Regions from separate parts of the Homo sapiens genome. Here regions 1 and 3 are each linked to region 2. The links come from fine-mapping of genetic effects on gene expression. A gene starts in region 2. Each other region holds a variant in brackets. All regions are shown on one strand. Distances are between the middles of the regions.

The links. PIP is the estimated chance that this variant, and not a neighbour inherited with it, causes the effect.
Region 1: its variant is fine-mapped to the expression of FBN2 in whole blood (TOPMed, PIP above 0.99).
Region 3: its variant is fine-mapped to the expression of FBN2 in whole blood (INTERVAL, PIP above 0.99).

What each region holds. Positions count from the first base shown.
Region 1 is chr5:128,569,920-128,572,677 of GRCh38, forward strand. No RefSeq gene overlaps it. Among named protein-coding and RNA genes, the nearest start is that of FBN2, 33 kb to the left of the region's middle. The variant A/C (reference allele first, on the strand shown) is at 1,501.
Region 2 is chr5:128,536,667-128,539,424 of GRCh38, forward strand. It overlaps FBN2 (fibrillin 2), which reads right to left and starts at 1,579. Exons shown (of 65, transcript NM_001999.4): 1 at 684-1,579. The coding sequence starts at 937. RefSeq lists enhancers at 1-179, 1,905-2,405.
Region 3 is chr5:128,654,282-128,657,039 of GRCh38, forward strand. All of the region lies in intron 1 of LOC105379167 (a long non-coding RNA gene), which reads right to left. Among named protein-coding and RNA genes, the nearest start is that of FBN2, 120 kb to the left of the region's middle. The variant A/G (reference allele first, on the strand shown) is at 1,557.

The sequences.
Region 1 (2,758 bases), 33 kb after region 2:
CAATATGCAGGAAATCAATTTAATTTTTTCTGAACCATGTAAATATAATAAAACCCTCATTATATATTGAAAAAGAACAAATAAATAATAAGCAACTTTTGCTTTTTTTCCCCATCTACCAAAGGAATTTCTCAGTTGATTCAATAAATTGTATTTCCTTAGGAAAAACTAAAATACATGTGAGTGGTAAAGAGACTTATATCTTTAATTTTTCCTCAAATTTTTTTATTATGGATTTGTTTGAATTTCTTTTTCACAGCTCTCCTTTTCTTTTTATTTCTGTCTCCCTTTCCTTCATCCCTCTGAAATAGTGAAAATCTCAGGAAAGTAAAGTCATATGGTTTCAAATTTCCCATCTTTAAACTATATTAAGCAATTTATGGGGTAGATATTTTGAAGCCAATTGCCATAGTACATTTAAGATTCTTGGATGAAGACGCCTTTTATAAATAAGAAGATTTTCCCTTTCAAATGTAGAATGGCTCCTTTTTCACTATGAAGAGAAATGTAAGCAATTCTTTTAAAGGACGTTCATTATAAAGGAACTTGTTTCTTGAATGTCTGTCCTTCCCGAATATATAAAGCAGGTAAAATTCTTTTCTGTAAATTTTTGTTATACTTGCACCTATACCTTTTTAGTGATTTTTTTATGGTTAAGTTGATATCTTTTAAGTTTTATTGAATAATTTTAAAAATTTAATTCTTTTAGTGTTTCAAAAGAACAACATAGAGGTGGCTGCAACCTTTAGTGTTCACTAGATTTGTTTATTTTTTTCATTGAAAAAATGATCTTGAAACATTGCGACCTTCTTTCATGCAATGATTTTTTATGATGACATTAGAACTGATACAAAAACAGATCACCATTGATTTCCCTAGAGTGATAACCATAGTGCTTCTCTACTTTTTCTCTCTCCTGCCTAAACATTGCTTTACAGAATTTTCAGTATCTTAACTCTCCATTTTTTTAGCCTTATTTCAAATTCACTTTTCTCCAAACTGGATACTCTACCTAGCCTCCTCAGCAACCCTCATTTCATAGTAAGTCCCATGTTTATATAGATACATTTTTATAGAGAACCAGATTAAAGAAGTTATATTCCTCACTCTCAGCTCAGAGATGAGCTTTATAGCTTCTAAAATAAAACCCTAACTTTTTTGGATTGCATTAAAAGACTACCATACGTCATATTTGGGAATTCCTTTGTCTTAGATATTCTGCTCTGTCAAACGAATCAGATTTTTCTGTAGTCCTGAATATTACTGTTCAATTATAGCCATTATCATCATCATTAATCACTAACGTGAATCTCTGCAGTCACGCTATTACTGTCCCATCTCCAAACTTCTGTATGTGTTGCATTACCTAGAGTATAACTTTTCTTCTTTCTCTAGAAAAATGCATCTAAAAATATATATACTCTATATTATCTATGTCGGCTAATTTCTTTACTATTTTCTCACTAGCATAAACACTTAGACAAAAAACCAAAACCAAAA[A/C]CAAAAACAAAACCCTTTCCACCAACCTCTGCCCACCATGGGTTGGAACTGGAACTAAATTGTTATGTTCCCCTCACTCCACAGAAGAAGACCGCTAGCTACAGGGGTCCCTGTGCTGGCCAAGCTAGTGAGCCTGTTGGGAGGCTGGTCCGAGGAGAAAGTGGGCCAGCTCCCATGACCTCGCCTCACTCCCTCAACATGGGACACTTTGTATAGATGTGTAATGTATATGTATTTCTTTTTAAGTGACCTCCTCTCCTTCTGCAGACCCCACATGACCATAAGCCTCAGGACTTTCCACCACCTTGCTCCACAGATCCTGCTAGGCCCAACCTGGGCCTCATCCCATGCTGCTTGGTCTCTGGCTGATCCTGGGGCTTTGTCTTCCTCTCGTCAGTTCTTTTGGTTGTGTTTTTTGTTGTTTTTTTTAAAAAGCTCAAAAAATAAATAAAAGACTTGGAGGAAGGGTAAAAAAACAAAAATCCCTTTCCTAAGACCGTAATTAGTTTGCACTTGCTTATAGATTACTTCTTATATGTGTATTTATATAATCGTGTTTTTTAATGATGGAAGCGAGATCATCTGTTACTTTGGATGAAAATTAAAAAACAATCCAGTACTCCCTTTCTCATGAATTCTGATACCATGCACTATCTTCTGTGCCTCTTTCCTAAATTATGTTAGTCTTTTCTGTGGCTTATCTAGACAAATGTAAAACTGCTGTAATACATTGGAACTTTAATTTGTTAAAAAGTGAGAAAATGGAGTAAACAAGCGCTTGAGTGTAAAAAAATGTTAACACTATGAGGGATTTCCCAGTGGAGTCACACAAGGACTTATGGTTCAAGGTTTAAAATCTAATAGCATGAGTAATGAAGCAAAAGTGATCTATGTTAAACATATTTACACTTTTATGAAATGTAAGCTTGGATAACGTAGAGTTCATAAACTAAATAGCAAAAGATAATTCCAAGATGAAATCATTTTATTACATAGGAACGCTTAATTTGTCAACTTTGAAATCCCAGAATGCTGTCTTTTTATTTTTCAGAATCTGTTTGCTTGTTTTGGTGTTTAGCCCAATGAAAGATATCTCAGGAGATCGTATTTTATAAGTGAATGCAAACATATGAAGCAACTTGATGGTTTGGAGTTTATATTTAAACAAATTTGTGTTATCCTGGTTTAATTATGTTACCCATAATGTAGACAAGTCTTATTTTTATTAAAGAAAGAAGAAAAAAAGCTGGTCTCAGAA
Region 2 (2,758 bases):
CAGGAGGGTCAGAAATGTCTAAACACTGCCTTTCATCTGTCGTCCCTTGCCTGCCTTTTTAAAGGGCGAAAAGAGGCATGGAAACATATAATTTGCTACTATTCTAGCTTCCAGATGCAGAGAACAAAGGGACCATTCCGTTCCAAAGAATCCTTGCCCTCCTTCCCAAATCCATTCCTCCTTGGTCAACTGTTACTTTGGCCCCGACGTGTCAAGGAAAGCGCGTCGCAAGGTGGAGCGCTCGGGTTGACGATGAGAAGGTGAGCTGTGAACCCTGCACACGTCCTCAAACAAAAGGCTCACGAGCGGCGGCCCCGACGTGGGGAGCAAGCAGGCTTCTCTGGCCCCTGCAGCAGGCGGACCCAGGCCCGCCTGCCGCCGGACATTCAGAACCTGTTCCCGCAGCGCGAGCTCTGCACACGCTCTGCGATCGGCACCCCTGGACCCCCTAACCACCCGCCGCCCAACCCCCGGAGAGAGGGCTTTCCGCCCGCTGAGCTGCGGGGTTGGGAAGGAAAAGGGGGACGCGCTCCTGGGGGTCTTTGGATATTCTGGCAAAGGGGGCTGCAGCTCTAGGCTCCAGCTAAAGGGTCTGGGACGGAGTGGGCCAGAAAGCCGCCAAACTGAGGATTCCCCCCTCCCCCAAGCCGGAGCCCTAGGTGCGGAGCCGCTTGCCCACTTACCCTCGGAGCACGTCCTGCTGTCCTCGCCGGCGGACGCGGCTGGCCACTGCGGCACCCTCCTCGCGATACTCGGGCGCTAGAAACCCGCCTTCAGAGCCTGCTGTAGCGGACCGAACCTGTTGCGGCGGCGGCTGGGGCCGGGGCGGCTTGGGCGGAGGAGGCTGAGGCTGGCCGGCCGTGCCCTGCGCCCAGAGCACCACACAGCCCAGCCACAGGAAGTAGAGCTGGAGACACAGCCTCCGTCTTCTCCCCATCGCCGGCGCCGAAAGCGCGCGGCCGTAGACCCGCGGAGAGGGAGTGATCAAAGACAAAATCTGCGCGCCTCAGAAAAGAGTCAGGGTCTAATAAGCCCTTCGTCGGCTCCGGGGACTCCCTCGGGCTCGGGCTCCCTGCTCTAGCTGGAGACCTCGACAGAGCGCCGGCCCCCTGACTGCCCGCGAAGCGAGACGCGGGGCGCCGGGTCTAGCGCAGTGAGCGGCGAGGCGCGGCGGAGGTGCAGCCGGCAGCCCCGAGCGGTACACGTTGCATAACCGGCCTAAAGCCCCGAGCGACTCCAGGACCGTCAGCGGGCGGGGGAGGAAATTACAAAAGCCCTGGCGTAAAATTTCAAAAAATGTGAACCTCAAAAGAAAAAAGGGCCTGCACGCAGAGCTCGGCGGATTCCCGTGCGCTCCGAAGACGGATATTGGAAAGCTGCAAAAGTCACCAGAAAGAAACAGGCAAGCAAACAAAAGTCGCCCCCAGAAGAAGAGGAGGGTTCCCTCCGGGCTCGCTCGGAGTCCCACAGGGCAACGAAGCGCGGGTAGCGGCTGCGGAGCCGGGCGGAGGTGCGCGGGGCCGGGGCGTGCGGCCAGCAAGAGAGAGGGCGGGAGGCTGGGCGCTGGAGAAGATGCGGCGGTGGAGGGCGCGGCGCGGGGGTTTTAGAGGCCCGGCGGGGCGCGGGGCGGGCCGGCGGGCGGCGGCTGTCAGTGGGGGCGCGGCCGTCCACACGTGGGGCTCAACCCGGACTGAGAGGCCGGCGCAGAGTGGGCGGGGACAGAGTAAGGGAGAGATCGGGACTGAGGAACGAGGGGAACCAGGGTTGGGTGAGGGGAAGAGGAAGGAAGGGGGGGAGGGCGAAGGGAGGGAAGAGGACGGAGATTGGGGAGAAGGGGGGCGAACCCGAGAGGAAGGCCGGGCTGGAAGAGGGACTTGGAAAGAGGGATTGGCGAGCCCGGGTGCGAGAGGAAATGAGCGGGGGATGGGGGCGAAGTTAGGGCAAAGAGAGAAGTGGGAAAGGAGAGGGAGGGCCAAGGTCCGGGCGCCGAGAGGAGGGGCCCGGGGGGCCGGCTGGAGGGGGCGAGGCGCTAGGCGGCTTTGCTTCCCGTCCCCGTCAATTGGCCGCTAGCTCTGTTTTGACTGCCTGTACAAAGCGAGTAGACGGCGGGGGATGGGGCGATTAGGGACCGGATTTGGGAAAGGAGGCAGCAGCCCCTTCCCCTCCCCCTCCGTCCTCGCCCGGCCGCGGACCAGGGACTAGGGTGCCTAAGCGCGCCAGGCTTGGCCGGACCCGCAGCTGAACTGACCCGCAGCTGAACTTCCCCGCCGGACAGAGGCCGCAAGGTTGAGGATGAGAACGGGTCTTTCTGTAGGGTCCCGGCCCCTGACCTGGGATGGGGGGATTCGCAGTCAGCCAGGAATAGAGGCTCACGGGGCTGTTGGTTGCAGCCTCAATCCAAGAAGGAGGAGACCTCCCCTTTGCCCTCCTACCCCCACCGCCCCACCGGGAGCGGCGTCAGTCTGCGGGACCAAATTAGGGGCTGGGAGTTTCCAGATTGAAATGCGCCCTCCACCACCAAGAGGGAGCTCACGCGGCCGCGGGGGGCCGAGGCAGCCAGCCGGCGCCGCGGTCCTGGGGAGTCCGTGCAGGGGTGTGCTCTGGTGTGAAACCTGGCAGGACTCTGCCTGGGCTTGCATGCAGGGAGGGGTTAGAGACTCTGAAATGTACTAGCGGGCAGGGTGGTGACAAGGCGGGTAAATGAGGCTCGGGGCATGCCCTTGCTTCCTGGCTTGGACCCCTTCTGATTGATTAAATC
Region 3 (2,758 bases), 120 kb after region 2:
TTGAATATTGACCCCTATACTCTCTTCCAGCTTGTAGGTTTTCTGCAGAGAGATCCACTGTTAGTCTGATGGGCTTCCCTTTGTGGGTAATGACCTTTATCTCTGGCTGCCCTTAACATTTTTTTCTGGTATTTCAACTTTGGTGAATCTGATGATTATGTGTCTTTGGATTGCTCTTCTCGAGCAGTATCTTTGTGGTGTTCTCTGTATTTCCTGAATTTGAATGTTGGCTTGTCTTGCTAGGTTGGGGAAGTTCTCCTGGATAATATCCTGAAGAATGTTTTCCAACTTGCTTCCATTCTCCCCATCAGTTTCAGGTACACCAATCAAAAATAGGTTTGGTCTTTTCACATAGTTCCATATTTCTTGGAGGCTTTGTTCATTCCTTTTCATTCTTTCTTCTCTAATCGTGTCTTCATGTTTTATTTCATTAAGTTGATCTTCAATTTCTGATATCCTTTCTTCTGCTTGATCGATTCAGCTATTGATACTTGCGTGTGCTTCATGAAGTTCTCATGCTATGTTTTTCAGCTCCATTGGGGCATTTATGTTCTTCTCCATACTGGATATTCTAGTTAGAAATTCCTCTAATATTTTTTCAAGGTTCTTAGCTTCCTTGCATTGTTTTAGAACATGCTCCTTTAGCTGAGAGCTGTTCATTATTACCCACCTTCTGAAGCCTGCTTCTGTCAATTCATCAAACTCATTCTCCATCCAGTTTTGTTCCCTTGCTGGGGAGGAGCTGTGATCCTTTGGAGGATCACAGAACCTTTCTGGTTTTTGGGATTTTCAGTCTTTTTGCATTGGTTTTTCCTTATCTTTGTGGATTTATCTACCTTTGGTCTTTGATGTTGGTGACCTTCAGATGTGGTTTATGTGTGGATGTCCTTTTTACTGATGTTGATGTGATTCCTTTCTGTTTGTTAGTTTTCCTTCTAACAGGCCCCTCTGCTTCAGGTCTGCTGGAGTTTGCTGGAGGTCCACTCCAGGTCCTGTTTGCCTGGATATCACCAGCAGAGGCTGCAGAACAGCAAATATTGCTGCCTGTTCCTTCCTCTGGAAGCTTTGTCCCAGAGGGGCACCCACCAGTTGCCAGCCAGAGCTCTCCTGTATGAGGTGTCTGTTGACCCCTGCTGGGAGGTATCTCCCAGTCAGGAGGCACAGCGGTCAGGGACCCACTTGAGGAGGCAGTCTGTCCCTTAGCAGAGCTTGAGCATTGTGCTGGGAGATCCACTGCTTTCTTTAGAGCCAGCAGGCAGGAACATTTCAGTCTACTGAAGCTGTGCTCACAGCCACCCCTTCCCCTATATGCTCTGTCCCAGGGAGACGGGAGTTTTATCGGTAAGCGGTTGGCTGGGGCTGCTGCCTTTCTTTGAGAGATGCCCTGCCCAGAGAGGAGGAATCTAGAGAGGCAGTCTGGCTAGAGCGGCTTTGCCAAGCTGCAGTGGGCTCTGCCCAGTTAGAACTTCCCAGCGGCTTTGTTTACACTGTAAGGGGGAAACAGCCTACTCAAGCCTCAGTAATAGTGGACACCCCTCCCCCTACCAAGCTTGAGC[A/G]TCCCAGGTCAACATCGGACTGCTGTGCTGGCAGTGAAAATTTCAAGCCAGTCGATCTTAGCTTGAAGGGCTCCATGGGGGTAGGATCTGCTGAGCTAGACCACTTGGTTCCCTGGCTTCAGCCCCCTTTCCAGGGGAGTGAATGGTTCTGTCTCACTGGTGTTCTGGGCACCACTGGGGTATGAAAAAAAAACTCCTGCAGCTAGCTCGGTGTCTGCCCAAATGGTCATCCAGTTTTGTGCTGAAACCCAGGGCTCTGGTGGTGTACTCACCCGAAGGAATTTCCTGGTGTGTGGGTTGCCAAGACTGTAAGAAAAGCATAGCATCTGGGCCAGAATGCACTGTTCATCAAGGCACAGTCCTTCATGGCTTCTCTTGGTTAGGGGAGGGAGTTCCCCAACCCCTTGCACTTCCTGGATGAGGTGACGCCCCATCCTGCTTCTGCTCCCCCTCTGTGGGCTGCACCCATTGTCTAACCAGTCCCAATGAGATGAGCAGGGTACCTCAGTTGGAAATGCAGAAATCACCTGCCTTCTGCATTGATCTTGCTAGGAGCTGCAGACTGGAGCTGTTCCTATTCGGCCATCTTGCCCAGGAATCGAGACTGGGTAATTTCTAAAGAAAAGAGGTTGAATTGGCTCACTGCTCAGCAGGCCACAGAGAAAACATGACTGGGGAGGCCTCAGGAAACTTTCAATCATGGTGGAAGGGAAAGCAGTCACATCTTACATGGCTGGAGCAGGAGGAAGAGCAAGGGGGGAGGTGCTCCACACTTTTAAATAGCCAGATCTCATGAGAACTCTGTATCAGAAGAACAGCAAGGGGGAAATCCACCTCCACAATCCAATCCCCTCCCACCAGACCCCTCTCCAACATTGGGGATTACAATTCAACATGAGATTTGGGCAGGCACACAAAACCAAACAATATCCATGCTCTTATTAAATTCCCTTTTCACTTGTTTCTGTAGCACTACTCTTCCATGGTACTTCTTCAAGTTTGTCCTTGGCTCCATCTTAATTTCTGGAATGGGCTCCTATACTTTGGCCTGCTCCTTAAACATTGGTGTTCCCTAGAGTTCTGTGGTTAATCTTTGTCTTTTTCTCATTCTATATCCCCCTATCCTATCCTCACATATCATTCTAAACCTTGGTTTCAACTACCACCTTAATCACAAAAAATTTTTTATAAAGAGGATCATT